4 linked regions of the Homo sapiens genome follow. The protein of the gene in region 4 purifies or fractionates together with the protein of the main gene of each other region. This does not show direct contact. Each region holds a gene or a part of one and is shown on either strand. Other genes may lie near its edges.

Region 1 (4,408 bases), on a different chromosome or scaffold from region 4:
TGGGCAAAAACTTGAGATGACAATAAAATGGGTAAACAACTGGGGGTATACTCATATAATGGAATATTATTCAGCAATGAAGAAATAAGCTGCAGTATGAGGCGGGTGGCTCACCTGAAGTCAGGAGTTTGAGGCCAGCCTGACCAACATGGCAAAACCCTGTCTCTACTAAAAAATACAAAAATTAGCCAGGCCTGGTGGCGTGCACCTATGGTCCCAGCTACCTGGGAGGCGGAGGCAGGAGAATCGTTTGAACCCAGGAGGTGGAGGTGTAGTGAGCCGAGATCGCGCCACTGCACTCTAGCCTAGGTGACAGAGTGAGACTGTCTCAAAAAAACAAAAACAAACAAATAAACAAGCAAAAAAGAAATAAGCTGCAATAACATGGATGAATCTTACATAATGATATAAAGTAAAAGAAGCAAGAAATAATATGCACAGCATATTATTTTGTACAAATTCCATTTGAACAGAGTTCAAAAACATGCAAAGCTGAAATATACTGCTTATGGATTCCAAAACTAGGAGGTAAAACCATAGAGAAAAAAAGGATGTGATTACTGAAAACCTCTTGAGCAAGGGGAGGGGGATGTGACTAGACAAGACACAGAGGGAGCTTCAGGGGTCTGACTGTGGTCTAGTTATTGACCCAGATGTCACTTTATAATTATTTGTTATTCAGTACCTTTGTGTTTTATGCAGTTTTCTGCATACAGTTATATTTCACAATTAAAAAGTTAAAGATCTGAAGCAAAATTGAAGACTTGAGCTGGCACAGAACACATGCCTGTAGTGCCAGCTATTCCAGGCACCATAAGCACCATGCGCACAATGAGTGAGCCTCTGAATAGCCACTGCACTCCAGCCTGGGCAACACAGCAAGACCCCATTTCTCAAATAATTAATTAAAGATAATTTTTTTTTAAAAAAGACTTAGGTCCATGTATGTTTTTCTGTATTTTACATTTTCACTATACATATATGTGTGTGTGTGTATACATACACACATATCTATATGTATGTATGTATTTTTGAGACAGGGTCTTGCTCTGTTGCCCAGTCTGGAGGGCAGTGGTGTGAGGATGGCTCACTGCAGCCTCAACCTCTTGGGTTCAAGCGATCCTTTTGCCTCAGCCTCCAGTGTAGCTGGGACCACAGGTGTGTGCCAACATGCCCGGCTAATTTTTTTTTTTAGAGATGGGGTCTCACTTTGTTGCCCAGGCTGGTCTCGAACTCCTGGCTTCAAGAAATCCTCCTGCCTCAACCTCCCAAAGTGCTAAGATTACAGGTGTGAGCCACTGCACCCAGCCTATACATATATATATATATATATATATATATATATATTTTTTTTTTTTTTTTTTTTTTTTTTTTGAGATGGAGTCTCGGTCTGTCGCCCAGGCTGGAGTGCAGTGGCGTGATCTCGGCTTACTGCAAGCTCTGCCTCCCGGGTTCCCGCCATTCTCCTGCCTCAGCCTCCCAAGCAGCTGGGACTACAGGCACCCGCCACCATGCCCAACTAATTTTTTTGTATTTTTAGTAGAGACGGGGTTTCACCCTGTTTGCCGGGATGGTCTCGATCTCCTGACCTCGTGATCCGCCCACCTCGGCCTCCCAAAGTGCTGGGATTGCAGGCGTGAGCCACCGCGCCCGGCCATATATATCTTTTTAACTGACTCTGATTACCAGCCAAGTTTGGAAATAGCTCTAAGGAAATTCTTCCTGATCCGTCCCTGAAAATAACCCACCATCACCAAAAACATTCCTCCTCTCAGCCCTCAATTCAATGTGTGAGAGGCAAACAAGAAATTCCTCCCAGCCTTTGTCTCTCTCCTACTTACCTGCAAGTGGGCAAGGTGACAGGGCCACACACTTATGTACCACACAGAGCACAGCAGTGGTTAAGGAGGCTACGTGCTGGCTCTCAGGGACCTATCGCCACTGCCAGCTGCAGGCCTCTCTGCTTTTTTGCCCCACTTACTAAACCAGGTTTGGCCTAAGGTGGACCACGGCCTGGACATTATGTTTGTCTGGTCAGCTTGGAATGCCCGGGAGGAGGCATTTCCAGCTGTAAAGGGGAGAGATGCTAAGTGACTGAAGAAGCCTGAGGCCAGAGAGATGAAAGACAGAGGAAAGACCTGAGGTCTATACAGACCTAGAAATTGGACCAACCTGAGCTATAAACTTCCTCAGTCAATGGCATCCTTCCAAAGCCTCAGTAGTCAGGGCCAAGGAAGCACACAGTGGCCACCTCTCTCCAGCAATTCCTATTTCCAGATCTGCTGAGAATCTCCACATAGATGTCCAATGAGCATCTCTAATTCACACGGCCAAAATCAAAGCCACACCTCCTGCCTAAACTTCTTCTTCCTCTAGCATTCTCTATCTTAGTGAAAGGGAATGGCACCACCTTCCATCCAAGCCTGAAACCCGAGGCCTCCTGCTCACTGAGGCTCCACATCTAACTCATCAGTGCCCTATGAGCACTACCTCTGAAAGTTAGTGGGATCTGCCCACTCCCTCTGTCCTGCTACCCAGTCCCAACCGCCATCGTCTCTTACTTGGGCTACTTCAACATCCCCTGGTCAAGAAGCCAGGCTCCAGGCTTTCCCTGCTCCTATGGCTTCTTCACACCATACCCAAAGAGATCCAGCTAAAATGCAAAGACAATTACATCTCTCCCTTGCTTAAAATCTTTCAATGGCTCCTTATCATCCCCTGGATAACATCCAAACTTAATATGAGGTATAAATCCCTTTATTTTCTAATTCTTTAGGTCTTATCTCTCACAATTCCACCCCTCACACGCTTTGATCCAGTTCTACTGCAACTCTTATACTTTCTTTCAAAGCACCAAGCCCTCCTACCTCTACACCTTTGTACATGCTATTTCCTCTTCCTATCCCTTCAAACCTCAACTCTCCCTCGGCCAGGCAATTCCTGCTTATGTGTCAAGTTATGGGTTAAATGCCAGTTCTTCTGGGATGTTCCTTGGGTCCTTTATGCTTTTTCAGTACCCTAAAATGCCACAGTACCTTTCACAGGTATTTCCAAAGCCTGTTGAATTATCTGTCTTCCTTTTTTTTTTTTAGAGGCAAGGTCTCAGGCTGGTCTTAAACTCCTGGTATTGAGCAATCTTCCCGCCTCGGCCTCCCAAAGTGCTGAGATCACAGGTGTGAGCACCATGTCCAGCCTGTCTTCTTGATGACAGAGGATCATATCTGTATTCTTCATCCTTACATGCGCAGCATGTGACATACAGCAAACATTCAATACATAACTGAATGCATGAATAGAAGCATGGCTGTGTACTCAGTACTCACAGGCTTTGAAAAAAAGTGAAGACCCAGTTCCTACATTCAAGAGTTTACCGATGAAGACAACCTAGATCACCTTCATCCTTCACCCACAAAAACACCCCTAAGAGCCAGGTAACACTGACCCTGTCTAATGCAAAATCAAGATCATTAACTCGGGACATGATAAATCACTTGCCAGAGGCTACCAGCTGACCTGGCTGTGATTCTCACACGAGGCTTGGGTTCACTCTACCTACTCATTACCCAGCTCAAGCCAACACCTGCTTCTGCCCTACTTGCAAGTCCCAAGCAGAAAGAGTGCAACCAGAACACATATGGAAACAGGAATGAGCTGAGGGATGGTGGTTGGTGGCAGAGAAGAACTCATAGTGAACTAATGGAACTAACGGTGCTGGGCTCAGTGCTGGCATCTCTGTAGGACCCTGCCCTGCCAAAAGGCACAGATAGTGAGATTTCAACCTGCACAACCTGCAGATGGTACTAATTGATACATGTTCCAGCTTAAACTACTTCTGTCTGCTCAGCAGCTGCTCTCAAGAGTATGGGCTGGAAAGAGGTTCATACCCTTCCTCCTTGATCTGATGGTAACTACACAGAGGCAACATCAAACATGCATTTAACTTGGGAAAATTAAACCATGGGTCCTTGCACAATCAATAAAGAGAGGGACAGAAAGATTATCCTCTGACAGCATGAGCAACTCAGAACTGGGTGAGATTCTAGTGCTGAGAGATTTGGACTTTCCACACAGCTGGCTCCTAAACTCAAGTCTCATTTTGGGTGGTGCTCAAAGCAATCTTGCTTAATCTCACTTTGGTGTTCTTTTTATTATTATTATTATTATTTCAGTCTTTTGCATGAATGTAACTTTAAAATTACAATTATTTTATCTTCTATGTATACCCATTCTTATATATGAGTATACATGTAACACATGTATGCAAACATCGTAAAAGAAGTGTATATGCAAAACCACATCCACCTTACACTATGGTAATCTGCAGAGTTTTCAAAGCCACTGTTGTTTACACATGATTTCTGTCTAATGTGCTGTGCTGACTTTAGAACCTGATCCCCAAAAAGGATGC
Region 2 (4,408 bases), on a different chromosome or scaffold from region 4:
AATTTAAACAGAACTCTACATTTTTACTCCCTAATTTTGGTACTATTTGACTTTTTGTGATTTTTGCATTCAAATATCACCAGCGTAATGAAAGACTTTTTTTTTAACCTAAGGAAACCAATCTGGACCTCGTTTTTATTTATGTATTTATTTTTTATTTTTGTTTTCATTTTATTTTTTTTTTCAGACAGGGTCTTGCTCTGTCACCCAGGCTGGATGGAGTTCAGTGGTACAATCAGGTCCCACTGCAGCCTTGACCTCCTGGGCTCTGGTGATCCTCCCACCTTAACCTCCTGAGTAGCTGGGACTACAGGTATGCGCCACCACGCCTGGCTAATTTTTTTTTTTTTTTTTGAGATGGAGTCTCACTCTGTCGTCCAGTCTAGAGTGCAGTGGCTCCATCTTGGCTCACTGCAACCTCTGCCTGCCGGGTTCAAGCGATTCTCCTGCCTCAGCCTCCCACGTAGCTGGGACTACAGGCATGTGCCACCACACCCAGCTAATTTTTTGTATTTTTAGTAGAGACGGGGTTTTACCTGCTGGCCAGGCTGGTCTCAAACTCCTAACCCTGTGATCCACCTGCCTCGGCCTCCCAAAGTGCTGGGATTACAGGCATGAGCCACCGTGCTTGGCCCGCCTGGCTAATTTTGGTATTTTTTTGTAGAGATGGGGTTTTGCCATGTTGTGTGGGCTAGTCTTGAACTCCTGGGCTTGGCGTCCAAAGGTCGTCCCCGTTCAGCCTCCCAAATAGCTGGGATTACAGGTGCATGCCACCAGGCCTGGCCATTTTTTTTTATTTTTGGTAGAGATGAGGTCTCATTATGTTGCCCAGGCTGGTCTTGAACTCCTGGGCTGAAGTGATCCTCCTGCCTGAGCCTCCCAAAGTGCTGGGATTACAGATGTGAGCCCCTTTGCTGGCCTGGACCTGGTTTTTATAGATGCCTTAAGTGGGTTGTTGCCTTGTGTGCACAGCCCCAGAAATGTCGTGCGCTCTTTTTGAGTGAGGGTTTGGGGAACAAGAAAGAATCCAAGGGCTCCCTCGGGTCTTTTGCACACATCCTTGGCTCGGGGGTCCCTGTGAGTCCAGCACGTCGCCGGACCATTCGCGGCAGTAAACACAACTTGGGATCTGCATCTCCCTAAGGGAACTTCGCAAGGTGCACCCACAGCTTTTACTGTTTCCAGTTTAATATTCAACCTGAATCTGGGGCCAGCCGAGTGGAGGCTGGTGCTGCTCTGCCCAGCTCCTGTTCTGTTTAGAAACATGTTTATTGCCTTAAGAAGGAGCCAGTTCTTTCACCCAAACAGGATGGGCCTGGAGTTCCTCCAGAGGCTAGTGGGCCCATAGCAGGGAAGGAGGGATGTAAGCTGTGGATAACCGACCGACACGTGTAAGATTGTGCAGTGTGACCCAGGCGTGGCTGTGCGCATGTGAGTGGACCTGTCGGCCTGACCTTCAGGACCAGGGAAAGGGGGAGCCCTCACTGCCTTCCCTCCCAGGACGAAGCAAACCAATCAATGGTCTTAAGGGTTTCTTTTCTTCTGAGGCCTAGTCCTGCTGTGGGCAAGGTTTTTCCAGTGGGATACATTAAAATCAACTTCGGTGGCTCACGCTTCTAATCTCAGCACTTTGGGAGGCTGAGGCGGGCGGATCACCTGAGGTCGGGAGTTCGAGACCAGCCTGACCAACATGGACAATCCCTGTCTCTACTAAAAATACAAAATTAGCCGGGCGTGGTGGCACATGCCTGTAATCCCAGCTACTTGGGAGGCTGAGGCAGGGGAATCGCTTGAACCCAGGGAGGCGGAGGTTGCAGTGAGCTGAGATTACGCCACTGCACTCCAGCCTGGACGACAGTGCGGCACTCTGTCTCAAAAAAATAAATAAATAAAAAATGGCTAAAATGGTAAATTTTTTGTTTGTTTGTTTGTTTGTTTGAGACAGAGTCTTGCTCTGTCGCCTGGGCTGGAGTGCAGTGGCACAATCTCGGCTCACTGCAATCTCCGCCTCCCAGGTTCACGTCATTCTCCTGCCTCAGCCTCCCGAGTAGCTGGTACTACAGGCTCCCGCAACCACGCCCGGCTAGTTTTTTTGTATTTTTAGTAGAGACAGGGTTTCACTGTGTTAGCCAGGATGGTCTCGATCTCCTGACCTCGTGATCCACCCGCCTCGGCCTCCCAAAGTGCTGGGATTACAGGCGTGAGCCACCGCGTCCGGCCTAACATGGTAAATTTTATGCTATGTGTATTTTACCACACACACAAAAACACGTGTCGAGGTGTTTTCCCAAGACAGTGTCTCGCAGACGTACGTTTTACACTATGATTTTTACTTTTCAAGAACTGTTTTAAAGCAGTATTTGCCTTATAATAGGTAGGTGAATGTTCTAGCTGCAAGAGAAACCGGAGTGGTCTGGTCACTCAACCAAAACCTGCTGAAGCAGACCCCTGGGGCACACTGGGAACTTCTACCATCCCAGGTGGAAAGGTTAGTCTGATGTGCGTAAGCAAACCTTGCACTTCTGTGCGCAGGACGGTATCCTTGGGCCAGGGCAGCCACCTGTTGTCCAGAATCCCACAGGGCACGTCTTACCCACTCCTTTTATGTTTGCCTGAGCCCAGGGGTTGCTGTTCTTGGAGAAACACCAACCACCCCCACTTGACTTCTGGCCCATTCGGATCCAGAAATGTGCAGTTTTAAAGCTGCAGCACCTTCCATTTAGGTCCCAGCTCTCCCTCTGGAAAATGCCTGCTCCTCACCAGAGATTCCTCCCTGGAGCACCTGCCTGAAGCATAGCTTTCAAGCTGGTGGTTTTAGAAAGTTAAGAGCCGGCTTCAGAATTCCGACAGGGTGGGATAGCATAGGCTGTGACTTTCTTAGCACACACAGCTGGTTAAAGAGAACTGGGAACGGGCTGGGCGTGGTGGCTCACGCCTGTAATCCCAACACTTTGGGAGGCCGAGGTGGGTGGATCACGAGATCAGGAGTTCGAGACCAGCCTGGCCAACATGGTGAAACCCCATCTCTACTAAAAATACAAAAACTGGCTGGGTGTGGTGGCGGGTGCCTGTAGTCCCAGCTACTCAGGAGGCTGAGGCAGGAGAATCACTTGAGCCCGGGAGGCGGAAGTTGCAGTGAGCCGAGATTACGCCACTGCACTCCAGCCCGTGCGACAGTGCAAGACTCTGTCTCAAAAAAAAAAAAAAAGGGAGAACTAGAACGAAGCATCTCTTTGCTCAAAGTGATCTTCTCAACTGGGGGTTCCTTTTCAGAAGGCCCCCAGGGTGCAGGGTGGTGTTTAGGAGCCTGGAGTGGACCATGCTCGAGTGGAAAGGTGTTTTCAGCAGGGTCAGCCTCTTTTTTTGGTAGAGATGGGGTCTCACCATGTTGCCCAGGCTGGTCTTGAACTCCTGGCCTCAACTAGTCCTCCCACCTTGGCCTCCTGAGTAGCTGAGATTATAGATATGAGCCACTGTGCCCAGCCAAGGGCCAAGCTCTTGAAGCCCTTCTGGGAACTCTATCTCTAGCCTCTCATTACTCAGAATCTGTGTGATGTATTCCAGTAACTTCATAAGTTCTGTGAAAAGAAGGTATACTCCAAAGTTTGTAACGGCTTCTCAAAAGTCACTTATCTTAAGTGGAAGCCCTTCTAATACTTACACAAAGATTAAGGCAAATAATGTGGCTGCGCAACGTGACTCTCACTCGTAATTCCAGCATGGTGGGAAGATCACTTGAGGCCTGCGGTTCAAGGCCAACCTGGGTGACAGAACAAGACCCCATCACACACACACACACACACACACACACACACAAAATAAATAATAATAATAATAATAAACAAAAAAACAGGCCAGGAGCACTGGCTCACACTTGTAATCCCAGCACTTTGGGAGGCTGTGGTGGGTGGATTGCTTGAGATCAGGAGTTTAAGACCAGTCTGGGTAACATGGCAAAATCTCGTCTCTACTAAAAAGAGAAAAAATTAGCTGGGCGTGGTGGCGCCTAACTGTAGTCTCAGCTATAGCTGAGGTGGGAGGATCACCTGAGCCCAGGAGGCAGAAGTTGCAGTGTGCCGAGATGGTGCCATTGCACTCTAGCCTGGATGTCAGCACAAGACCTTGTCTCAAACAAAACAAAACAAGGCCGGGCACAGTGGCTCATGCCTGTAATCCCAACATTTTGGGAGGCCAAGACAGGAGGATTGCTTGAGCCCAGGAGTTCAAGACCAGCCTGGAGAGCATAGCGAGACCCTGTCTCTACAAAAAAATAAAAAATTAGGCCAGGGCGGTGGCTCTCGTCTGTAATCCCACACTTTGGGAGGCCAAGGCAGGCACATCACAAGGTCAGGAGTTTGAGACCAGCCTGACCAACATGGTGAAACCCTGTCTCTAGTAAAAATACAAA
Region 3 (4,408 bases), on a different chromosome or scaffold from region 4:
ACTCCCAAAATGAGCCATGGCAGCTCCAGAGACCAGGTGGAGGGGAAATCACCCCACGCTCCCGAGCAGAGAGCTTCGGAGCCAGCCAGCCTCACTGTGCGTGGCCCACAACAGCTGTCTCCATGTGTCACGTGAGGGCTGCCCAACACCAGGTAGGGCAGCAACGCCCACGCCCTCGCCGGGCACAGCCTCCCAGAGGTCACTGCCATGCCGCACTGACCGGAGAGAGGGCAGTGGTGAGAGGTGCATGCCACCCCAGGCTTGTTCCGAAGGCTCCTGGAGGCCACGTCCCCTGAGCTGCTCAGCCTGACTCCAATACTCCACCCCCCAACAGCTCTGCCGTTCCCAGGCGGGTGCCCCCCAGGCTCAGTGCCCTGGACCACTTCTAGCTCGAGGCTCCCACTCACTCTCCAGTGCCTCGGAGGAGCCCATCCCCCTGTGCGAGGGGCAGCACGTCCCTCCCTGGGCCAGGGTGATTCCCAAGTTTACTGGGATGTCTGGAGTTGACTTGGGGAGACAGTGCAGCCCCCAAGCCCCCACCAGCCCTGTGTAAAACTAAGTAGCGCAGCGGACAGGCCAGGAGCAGTGTGGCATCTGAGCATCCGGGAGCCCCAACAGCTCCCTCCTGATGAGGGCAGGAGACACCCTGGAGACCTGCAGCCAAAGTGCTGTCCTTCGCCCTCCCAAGGCCGGGAGCAGCACGGGCTACTCTAGACAGAGCCTGGGGTGAGACCCATCTTTTCTGGACACACTGTCTCCCTAGGCCATCTTCCACAGGAAGGTCCAACTGCAGACACCAACCAGGGGGCCCTTGAGGCTGTACCCCATGGCCAGACACCCCCACAGGCAGGCAGGCCCGGGTGGCTGAGGGGCTTGCAGGACACGGCTGGCCTGGGAGGCTTAAGCGCATCAGGGATGCCGCAGGATTTGGCAGCTGAGATAGGGGTCTGCTGTCTGCCGCACTGGTCCTGACCCCTTGGCCCTGAGCCTGTGGCCTAAGCCAGACAGGAAGGTCACCCACTAGGGCTGGCGGCACGAGTGGCACTCCCTGCCCAGCCCCCAGGAGGGGCTCTTGGGTTCACGACCACTGATGTCCACAGCCTGGCCTGGCACGGGCACCCTCCAGTCATCCCAACAAACGCCCCAACACTGCCCCTGGGCATCTGCCTCACAGCAACAGCCCCACCACCAAGACAGTGCTACTGAGGATCTACAGCTGGCATGGAGTGCGGACGGCTCTCGTCAACTACAGGCAGGGACAGACACACAGGGAGGGTCTGTGGCAAGGGTCAGCTGGGGCCATGGGGTCAAGGAGGCCACGGAGCTCACCATGACATTCACACTTAATCTGAGCCACTCCCTGGGTGCCCCTGGTCCTCGTCGTCACTCTGGCGGCGTGCAGCGCGCAGTGGGGGAGAAGACAGGCTGTCAGGACAGTGCGGGTGGGCGGGTGCCCCGGGCCCAAACCCCCACGCCCGGTGACCTTCCAGTGAGGCCACGCCACGAGGGGACACACAGGCTCAGGGGCTCTGCCACATCTCAGAGGTGGAAACCTCCACGTGTGAGGCGGCTGCATCTTGCGATCCGGGGCTGGTCCTGTCCCACCATGTGCTGAGGGGCTGAACCCTGTCCAGAGGCGCCTGGCCTCTGGCCCCACTCCTGGCAGGCGGCGCTAGCCCACAGATCTCGGCCTGATAGGAGGGCCTCTGCTGCGTGGGCTCTGTGGACCCCACTGCATTGGCCCCACTGCTGCAGGAGGGAGGGTGGGGCCCTGGGTCACAGGAGGGATCAGCCACGGGGGCAGGCGGTGGATGCACCCATCGAGCATGGCTACGCAATGGAGCCCCAACACCACCAAGGAACCCCCTCCTCAGCCGCCCAGGCACTGGGAGACCCCGGCCTCTGCCCAGGTGCCCGCCCTTGCTGATCTGAGCCTGTCTCTCTCTGTTCCTTGGGAATAAATGGCGGCCTTGAGTCTAAGCGCTCTCAGTGAGCTCTGCGAGTCCTTCTAGCAAGTTCTTGAGGGACTGGCGTGGGAAGCAGGTGTGCTCATGTGTGGACCGCCTTCACTTGCTACAGGTGCAACCCCTCCCGCCCCACCACCCAGGCTCTCCCGCCGCCGCTGACTGAAGTGGGGGACAGCTGCCCAGCAGGGCCAGGCCACACATGCTGCAGGGACACCAGCGACGAGGGCCCACAGCCCATGCGGCCCTGCGCAGCCCAGCCAGGGGTGCCCCCATCACGGTCCTCCAGCTCTGGCCCCCGCAATCCCCCACGGCCTCCTGAGGCTCTGGCCTGAGCTCTGCCTCCTGGGGCACTGCTGACACCACCCCCATCAAGAAGCCGCCATAGCTGCCCCACTTCAGAGCAGGTATTTTTGGAAAATGAAATAGGGCCACATTCTCAACCACAAAGGGATTTGGGGTCATGCCTGGAGCTTCCTCACAGTACAGAGCGTGTCCTTTCTGCAGCTGCCAAGCCACCTGAGGGATAGGAGCCCAGGGGAGCTTGGTTATAAAAACTCAGCTCAGAAATAAAAAACTTCTAAAAATAAAACCATTTAGAAAAGAGCCCTACGATTGCTCCAAGAGGAAGAGAAGTGCCTCCTTGTGACTGAGCTGGGGCTCTCAGGGAGCCAGGGGTCGCCTCCTAGATCCGAGACTCAAATGGAAGAGCATCTCCGAGCCTGGCGGTGGAACCCCAGCTTCCACCCCGGCTGTCCCACACCAGGGCCTGCCCCAGCCTACACTGCCTCGGCCTCGAGGAACGGCAGTGGAGCAGGACTGGCCTCTGCCCACAGCAAGAGCACAACGGGTGGCCAGCGAGGGAGGCTCTGGGCCAGGACAGTCGCCTGAGGTGGAAAGGCTGCCGTGAGCTGGCCGCAGGCCTCCGAGAGACATGCTTGGCGGCCCCACCCCTCTGTTCCCAAGGGCATACCTCCAAAGGCCTACTCGGAGAGGCTCACGGGGACAGTCCTGGGCTGCTGGTGGCCGGCCAGAGGCCCCCAGCCAAGAGTCTGCGGTTGCCCAGGTGTCCCTGGTTTAATGCCACCAGTTAAAAGCCTTCCGGTTCTGGCCTCTCATGGCACCCACTCAACACCCTTTGCCAATGCCCCGAGCCTTCGCCCCAGGCTGGCTCCCCACAGAGCCCGCCCCACCACCCAGGCTCTCCCAGACCCACGCAGACCCCAGCCAAGAGCTCTCCAGCCACCACCTGGCTCTGAGGTCCGGGAGTCCTGCCAGGTGCAGCTGGCCCAGGCCAAGGTCAGATTCTGCTTGGATGGACGCATTTGTCCATCTTGGAGCCTCAACCTTAAGAACGTGCTTAGAGGAAATGCCACCAGAATGGGTCACCTGTGGGCAGGGCCACAGGGCCAACCTGAAAGCAAACGAGGCAGGGGTCCCTGCATTTCACCCCAGCTGCCTGCCCCGCAGAAAACAGAAGGGCCTGAGCCCCCGCAGAGTCTGCGCCGGTGCTGCCAGGCTGGGTGCCGCAAAGGGCCTACTCTGTGCAGCCTGAGAATCCCAGGGCCTGCAGGACACCCTCCTCTCGACAAAGATGAGGCCCACGTAGTGGCTGAGCCAGGGTACCCACCCCTGCACTCAGGGATGGCCCAGACCCCCACCACGACAACTGGACCCCCATGTCCCTGCACTCAGGGATGGCCCAGACCCCTATGACAGCCAGGCCTCAGCATCCCAAGTCCTCACTCACACAGCAGAGGCTGGGCCCGGGGAACAGAGGACCCTGGGTCCCCTGAGACACAGCCCTCAGTGGCATTCCTAAGAGCATGGCCCCTGCAGCAGGCCTGGGGCCCCTTCCAGGAGCAGCTCTGCATGCAGGCTGGGAGGCCGCAGGGGCTTACTGGGAGCCTGTGTCGAGAGAACCTGTCCCACGGGAGACCGTGTGTCCAAGAAGTCAGCAAGGCCACCAGGGGCGGACACCGGGAGCTTGATGAGAATGGCAGAAAAGGAGGAAGGTCTGAGAGGGCAAGAGCCTTCCCCACCCAAGACTGCCCCAGGCCAGGGCCGGCCCAGCACTCACCTTGGCCTTCTCGCTGGGCTCGCTGGCCGTACCGTACGGGGTGTTGTGCAGCTCCTTGGACACCACACAGAGGAACTCGGCTTGGTCTTCGTTCCCATAGTTGTAAGAGGAGCCGATGCTGACCAACTGCAAGGAGACATAGCCTGAGACGCAGCCCAGTGAAGCCTGAGAGACCCAGCCAGGCTGACATGACCAGCCTCAGGACGCGCCTGCCACCGCGAAAGCCACAGCAAAGACTGCCGACGCTTCAGGAAATGGATGGAAAACAAATCCCCGGAACACCTGCACGAGCACACGGGGCGGCACCCCACGCCGTGGCATGGCATGGGGCGAGCTCTTCCTCTGTGAGGACCCTGAGCTTTCC
Region 4 (5,316 bases):
TACACAAATTTAAAGCTGTCTACTGAAAAAAGCTTTTACAAAATGCTTGTGTACCCCAGTACCATGAAAGATGCAAACAAGTAGACAACATGGTCTTTGAAAAGGACTATGTAGTCTAGGTGGAAAAATTTATTTGATGAAGATGAAACTAATTAGTAAATTGATTAGTAAATATGGTCAGAATAGAAAAAGAGATTCATGAACAAGTAGGAACTTGAGCTGACCCCTAAAGGAGGAATAAGATTGGGAGAGGCAAAGAAATAAGAGGGAAGGGTATTCTCAGTCAGAAACCCAGAATAACCAGAGAGGTGACACTTTGCATAGCACACTTTTAGAACGATAAAAGGAATCACTTGGAAAGGTCTGTTGGGAGTATATGGGAGAAATGAGACATTTTTCTGTGGGGTCAATTTATGGAGCAGCCAATTAGTTAAGAAGCAATCATTTTACCCATGCTCTTGCCTTGCATCTTATATCTTTTACTCTTAAATTTACATTATTTTTCATAATATTAATAGCATCTCCTGCCAAAGAGCATCTTTCCAGCTTACAATGATTCCCATTCCCATTCCCATTCCTCTACATGGGCAGGTTAATTCCTAGGGGCTATGTCTGTATAATGGAGTTCAATTTGAATGTCAGTTGATTGAAGCTGGAGAGGGCTCATTCTTGCTGGAACAGAGATGGCACTCTAGGACTACGTGCTATGGAGACTGAAAAGGATTGAATCAAGCCATCTCTTTTTTCATGGAGCTGGAACTATGAGTTGTGATCCTGGGAACCATGGGCAGCCATCTTGTGCCTGCTATATGGACCTGGCAGCTAAAAATCCCTTCTTCCCAGGAAAAGGAAGAGGCAGACACAGAGAGAGGAGCAGAGACAGGTGACGGAGCACTCGCAGTTCTCAATGGCCTTCCAGTTCTCACTTCCACTGCCTATCTAGCCACATTTCTGCTCTTGGATTGAGACATCCTGTATCTTTTATAATCAGTACCTCTTTCTGCTTCAGCTAGCTTGGTTGAGATTCCTATTATTAGAAACTCAAAGAGTCCTAATACAATGATGAATAAACAGATTTACTGAAGCCCTGCTGTCCTTTACTTTTGTGCATGTTCCCTCCTCTTGTGCTCTAAGGACAAGGTTTCTTTCATTTTGTCTTTGGTCAGTGTTAGTGTGAGTCTATTGCTGTTTCATTCATCCAGGTGTCACAGTCCACAGCCCCTCTCTCCCCCTTCCCCTAACTCTCTTCCCAATTTCCTTTTATTTCTCTTTACCCTCTGTCCTTGAATGAAATCCTAACAAAGAAATACAAAGAGGCTGAGAGTATAATTTATATATGCCCGAGGCTTATGAACAGATAATTGGTTCACTTAGCCCAAATCTCCCAGGGTCTGTGATGTAAAGGGATAGAAAACAAGAAGGCTTAAAAAACAAACATGCTATTCATGTAACTATGTTATTCATAGAGTAGGGCTACTCTATGCAGCATAATTTATTCTGGGGGTCACATGAGGGATAAGGCCACCGCCTGCTTAAGGGACCCTCAACAACTTCAATTCCAGCTGTGTCCCCAAATCCTCCTCTTAAGAGTCCTATTCTTTGCCACCTCAGTTGCAGTAGGTTCTGCCAGACGTATATAAAGCCATTTCTATCCTTTATAGCTTGAAGAGGTCACTACTCTCACTGGAAAATCACAAGCCTGGGATCTTCAGAGAGAAGCCCCTTCCTGCTGAAGGATCATGTATGGAAAGTAGGTGGGGAAGCCTGAATGCTCAAAAGCCTTGAAAAGACTTCTAAAGGCAGATAACCAAGCCCTAAACCAGCTAGCTGACAACCGTGTCAACACAGTCAACACTTTATCCAACTGCTCAACTAAAAATAATCTGTCACTTCACCACAGCAAGCCTGCCTGGCTCTGAGGTACAGAACAAATGCTGAAATACAGGATGCTGCTGTATTTCTAACAATGTAAGGTCCAATGACATCAAGTGGGATTCAGAGATTTGAATGTGAAGATCACCTAGGAAGGCAACTACTCACACCCAGTTTATCAGGTTCATGCTTTGCTTCTTTTTTAGTATTGATTTATTTGTGTCTCTTCAAAGGGCAATCAGAGTGTGGTATTGGCTTCTTTCTGATCACATTTGGTAACTATGCTTCTTGGATATCTTGTTTGCGTCAATAATAGGCCTTGTTCAATTTTTTTGTAGTCTTCAACTAGGTCAGGGATTTTTGAGAGCAAGAATCATGTTTTTGTCTATCTCCATCTCTTTAGAACCTAACAAGCCCTTGCAATTTAGAAAGCTCTCAGTAAAGTATTTATTATATAAGTAAATGAATGAACAACTGAACAAACAGCAAAAATCCAACCTTATGATGCGGGTCTAGGAAAACTTTTTAAAGGACCTAATAATTTGATCTGAATCTTTAATGAGTCAATGCAGTCAAGTGTTAAGTAAAGTAAGGTAAGTAAAGCAGCAAGGTAGAGGGGCAAAGGAGACTGGATGTTCTAGGCATTTGAAATTCCCATCAAAAGAATTAAAAGTTGTTCTATATGGCATGCAGAAAAGAGAGCAGGAATGAAGCTGAAGAGATGACAGGGGTCACAGGAACTTTGTATACACTGCTAAAGGGCCTGAATTTTATTTTACTGGTGATGGGGAATCATGAGCTGATTTTCAATAAAGAGGAATGTAATTAGATTTTCTTTTAGAACATTATATTTGGAAGGAATATGGAAGGTAATTGATGGCGGGATGGAGATGTATTGAGATGGAATTGCAGACAGCAAATAGGAGCCCCTTGCAGTCAGTAATTCAGGTGAGGGATGATAAAAGTCTAAACTATTTCTGAAAAGCTCTATTTCTATTATCTTTCTTCTGCTGTCAGTTTTCATCACCCATGAGCACATCATATCCTCCTTCAGGAACAGTAACTGGGGATGCTGAATATTAACAGAAAACATCAACCACAGTAAAGCTTCACAGACTTTTATCATAGTTGGACCACCTCAAAAGTCAAAGTGGTATTTTCCAGAAGGCCCATGGGCAGAACCTCCTCTCCCTCAAAAAGAACTGAATGACCCTTTCTGATTTGACAATCCATGGGCCACCTTACTTCTCTCAGCAGGTATTGTGCCCACCTGTTGCTTTGTGCTTTTTCAGCAAGAGAGTGAAAAAGAAGAAGCAAGAAAAGAGGAGAAGAGGAAGATGGCAAAGGAGCACGGTAAGGTCGCTTTAGTGATCTCAGTCATGAAGAAAGAAGAAGAATTAAGGCTGTTGAAAGAAGAGCAGGAGCTGATTAAATCCTGTGGTCCATTACTAGGCATCAAATTTTACAAAGGAGATTTAGGATAATGGGAAAATGTCCATGGGTATTTGCTCATCTTACTTGTAGAGAAAGAAGAGCTCTCTCTTCACTCTCTAGCACATACCTGATGAGACTTAGCAGAAGTAAACTCCTTCCCATAGGACAGTGGTTCTCAACCTTGGCTATACATCGGAATGAACTGAAAAATTCTTTTTAAAAAATACTGATGCCTGAATCATACCCCAGGAGATTCTAATTTAATTGGTTTGGGTGTGGTTCGGTAATTGGTCCTTTTATAGAGCTCTCTGGGTGTTGGGAACGCACAGATGAGCTGAGAACCATCGCTGTAGACCAGGGGTCAGTGAACTTCCTGTGAAACACCAGAGAATAAATATTTTAGCTTTGTGGGCCATATGGTCTCTGTTACAACCACCCTACTCTGCTGTTTTAGAGTGAAAGCAGCCATAGACAATATGTAAATGAGTGTGTTCTAATAAAACTTTCTTTATAAACATAGGCAGTGGGCTGGCTTTGGCCCATGAGCCAAATTTTATTGACCCTGTCAGACTCCAAAGGACAGCTGGATTGCCCAGGTGCTGAATTAGGTATGGAGAAAATAGGAAAAATATTCTAGTTTTAAAAGGGCATTTGGAAGAAGGTTGTAGTTTTAGCTTAGTACAATGAGATATGTGTCTGAGCTGCATTTCATAGAATTCTTGGGTAAGGCATTTTACTTCTGGGGCAGTAAAGTTTTGATGGTTAACAGAAATTTACTTTGCCACCGTGCCATAGCTATCTATTAATAACGACAGCATATTGGCCAAGGTTTTCATCTGAAAACTACCAACGAAGGGTTTGAATTTAAAGTCTTGGTTCCAGATGAATTAGCCCCAGCTTACAGCAAAGCTGTCAGGTTAGGTCTGGGGAGGGAGAGGAAAAAAAGAAACACATAGACTATGAACTTTCATTAAACCTCTTTGTTGTTTGACTTCTTAGGGAGGCAAGGTGTGACTTTTGTGTTTGCAGGAAAAAAATTCAATAAAGTATAAAGAAGAAAAAACTTATAACGTGCAAGGATAACTAGAAGTGTTAGACCCAAAATACGGACATTTAGCCTTAGAACCTGAACCAGGACAGAAAAAATTAAAAACCAAATAAGAAAAACGTTTCCATGAGGACAGGGAGGGGAACTAGTGCGCTGATATATTTTATGTGTTCTCTAATTTCTCTCACTGGAATTTAACCATGAGCCTGTTTTGCTTTTTTTTTTGTGTTGTGTTGTTAGGTTTTAATTCTACATGGGAAAGAGGATCTAATTCATTCTATTATTTTATGCTGGAGAAGGGAAAGACACGTTAGAAATGAACTTCTGCCTAATCTTTAAGATGCTCTCCTGTCATTACTGGTTTTATCCCTCTCTAGGAAAGAGTGGTCACATGACATGCGCCTTAGACTCACGCTAGATGAAGTGTGGGGTTAGACCATCCTCACCTTTATCCTGTCGATATTGGCTTCCATCTTAAGCTGCTCTACCAGCTTCCTGGCTTGTGCTATGCTGGCGGTGTTGTTGCTGGCCATCGGAGTGCTGGATAGATCTTTCAGAAACACTAGAAAAGAAAACAAAAAGAAGATTGTACCAGAGAATTCATGAGCCAGCAAATGTGCAAGTTCATCGTAACTAGGGGATCTCAAAGCAGTGGCTGTAGCCAGGCCTGGCTTCTCCAGCCCTCTCCATCCTTGGTCGGTATTACCTCTGACTGGCAGGCAGAGCAGAGGATGAGGTTTGATTTTCCAATTCTCCCTACTTCCCCATCCCTTCTTTAGAGAGAAAAAAAACACACACACAAAGAATATTACCAAATGTTCTCCCAGTGGGCTCAAACCCCATCCTTCTGGTTAACTGTGACCACCTCAGCGTATTATACTACAGAGACACTATAGTGGGAGGCTTGGCTTTTCAGTGTCACTTAATCCAGCATTGCTGTAAATAGCCATTCCTCCCCACTC

The links.
Region 1: the proteins of GNG2 (region 4) and SMO fractionate together in Homo sapiens (co-fractionation; one study listed by IntAct). This does not show direct contact.
Region 2: the proteins of GNG2 (region 4) and TBC1D24 purify together in Homo sapiens (affinity purification with mass spectrometry; one large-scale study listed by BioGRID and IntAct). This does not show direct contact.
Region 3: the proteins of GNG2 (region 4) and KCTD5 purify together in Homo sapiens (affinity purification with western blotting; 2 studies listed by BioGRID and IntAct, with this or other methods). This does not show direct contact.

Annotation. Positions count from the first base shown.
Region 1 is NC_000007.14:129,190,725-129,195,132, reverse strand, and holds part of SMO (protein smoothened precursor), read right to left. Parts: intron 1-4,408. UniProt on the Homo sapiens protein: G protein-coupled receptor which associates with the patched protein (PTCH) to transduce hedgehog protein signaling. Binding of sonic hedgehog (SHH) to its receptor patched prevents inhibition of smoothened (SMO) by patched.
Region 2 is NC_000016.10:2,491,219-2,495,626, forward strand, and holds part of TBC1D24 (TBC1 domain family member 24), read left to right. Parts: intron 1-4,408. UniProt on the Homo sapiens protein: May act as a GTPase-activating protein for Rab family protein(s). Involved in neuronal projections development, probably through a negative modulation of ARF6 function. Involved in the regulation of synaptic vesicle trafficking.
Region 3 is NC_000016.10:2,702,115-2,706,522, reverse strand, and holds part of KCTD5 (BTB/POZ domain-containing protein KCTD5), read right to left. Parts: intron 4,171-4,408; coding exon 4,045-4,170; intron 1-4,044. UniProt on the Homo sapiens protein: Its interaction with CUL3 suggests that it may act as a substrate adapter in some E3 ligase complex. Does not affect the function of Kv channel Kv2.1/KCNB1, Kv1.2/KCNA2, Kv4.2/KCND2 and Kv3.4/KCNC4.
Region 4 is NC_000014.9:51,950,250-51,955,565, reverse strand, and holds part of GNG2 (guanine nucleotide-binding protein G(I)/G(S)/G(O) subunit gamma-2 precursor), read right to left. Parts: intron 4,917-5,316; coding exon of another isoform or gene 4,888-4,916; coding exon 4,801-4,887; intron 1-4,800. UniProt on the Homo sapiens protein: Guanine nucleotide-binding proteins (G proteins) are involved as a modulator or transducer in various transmembrane signaling systems.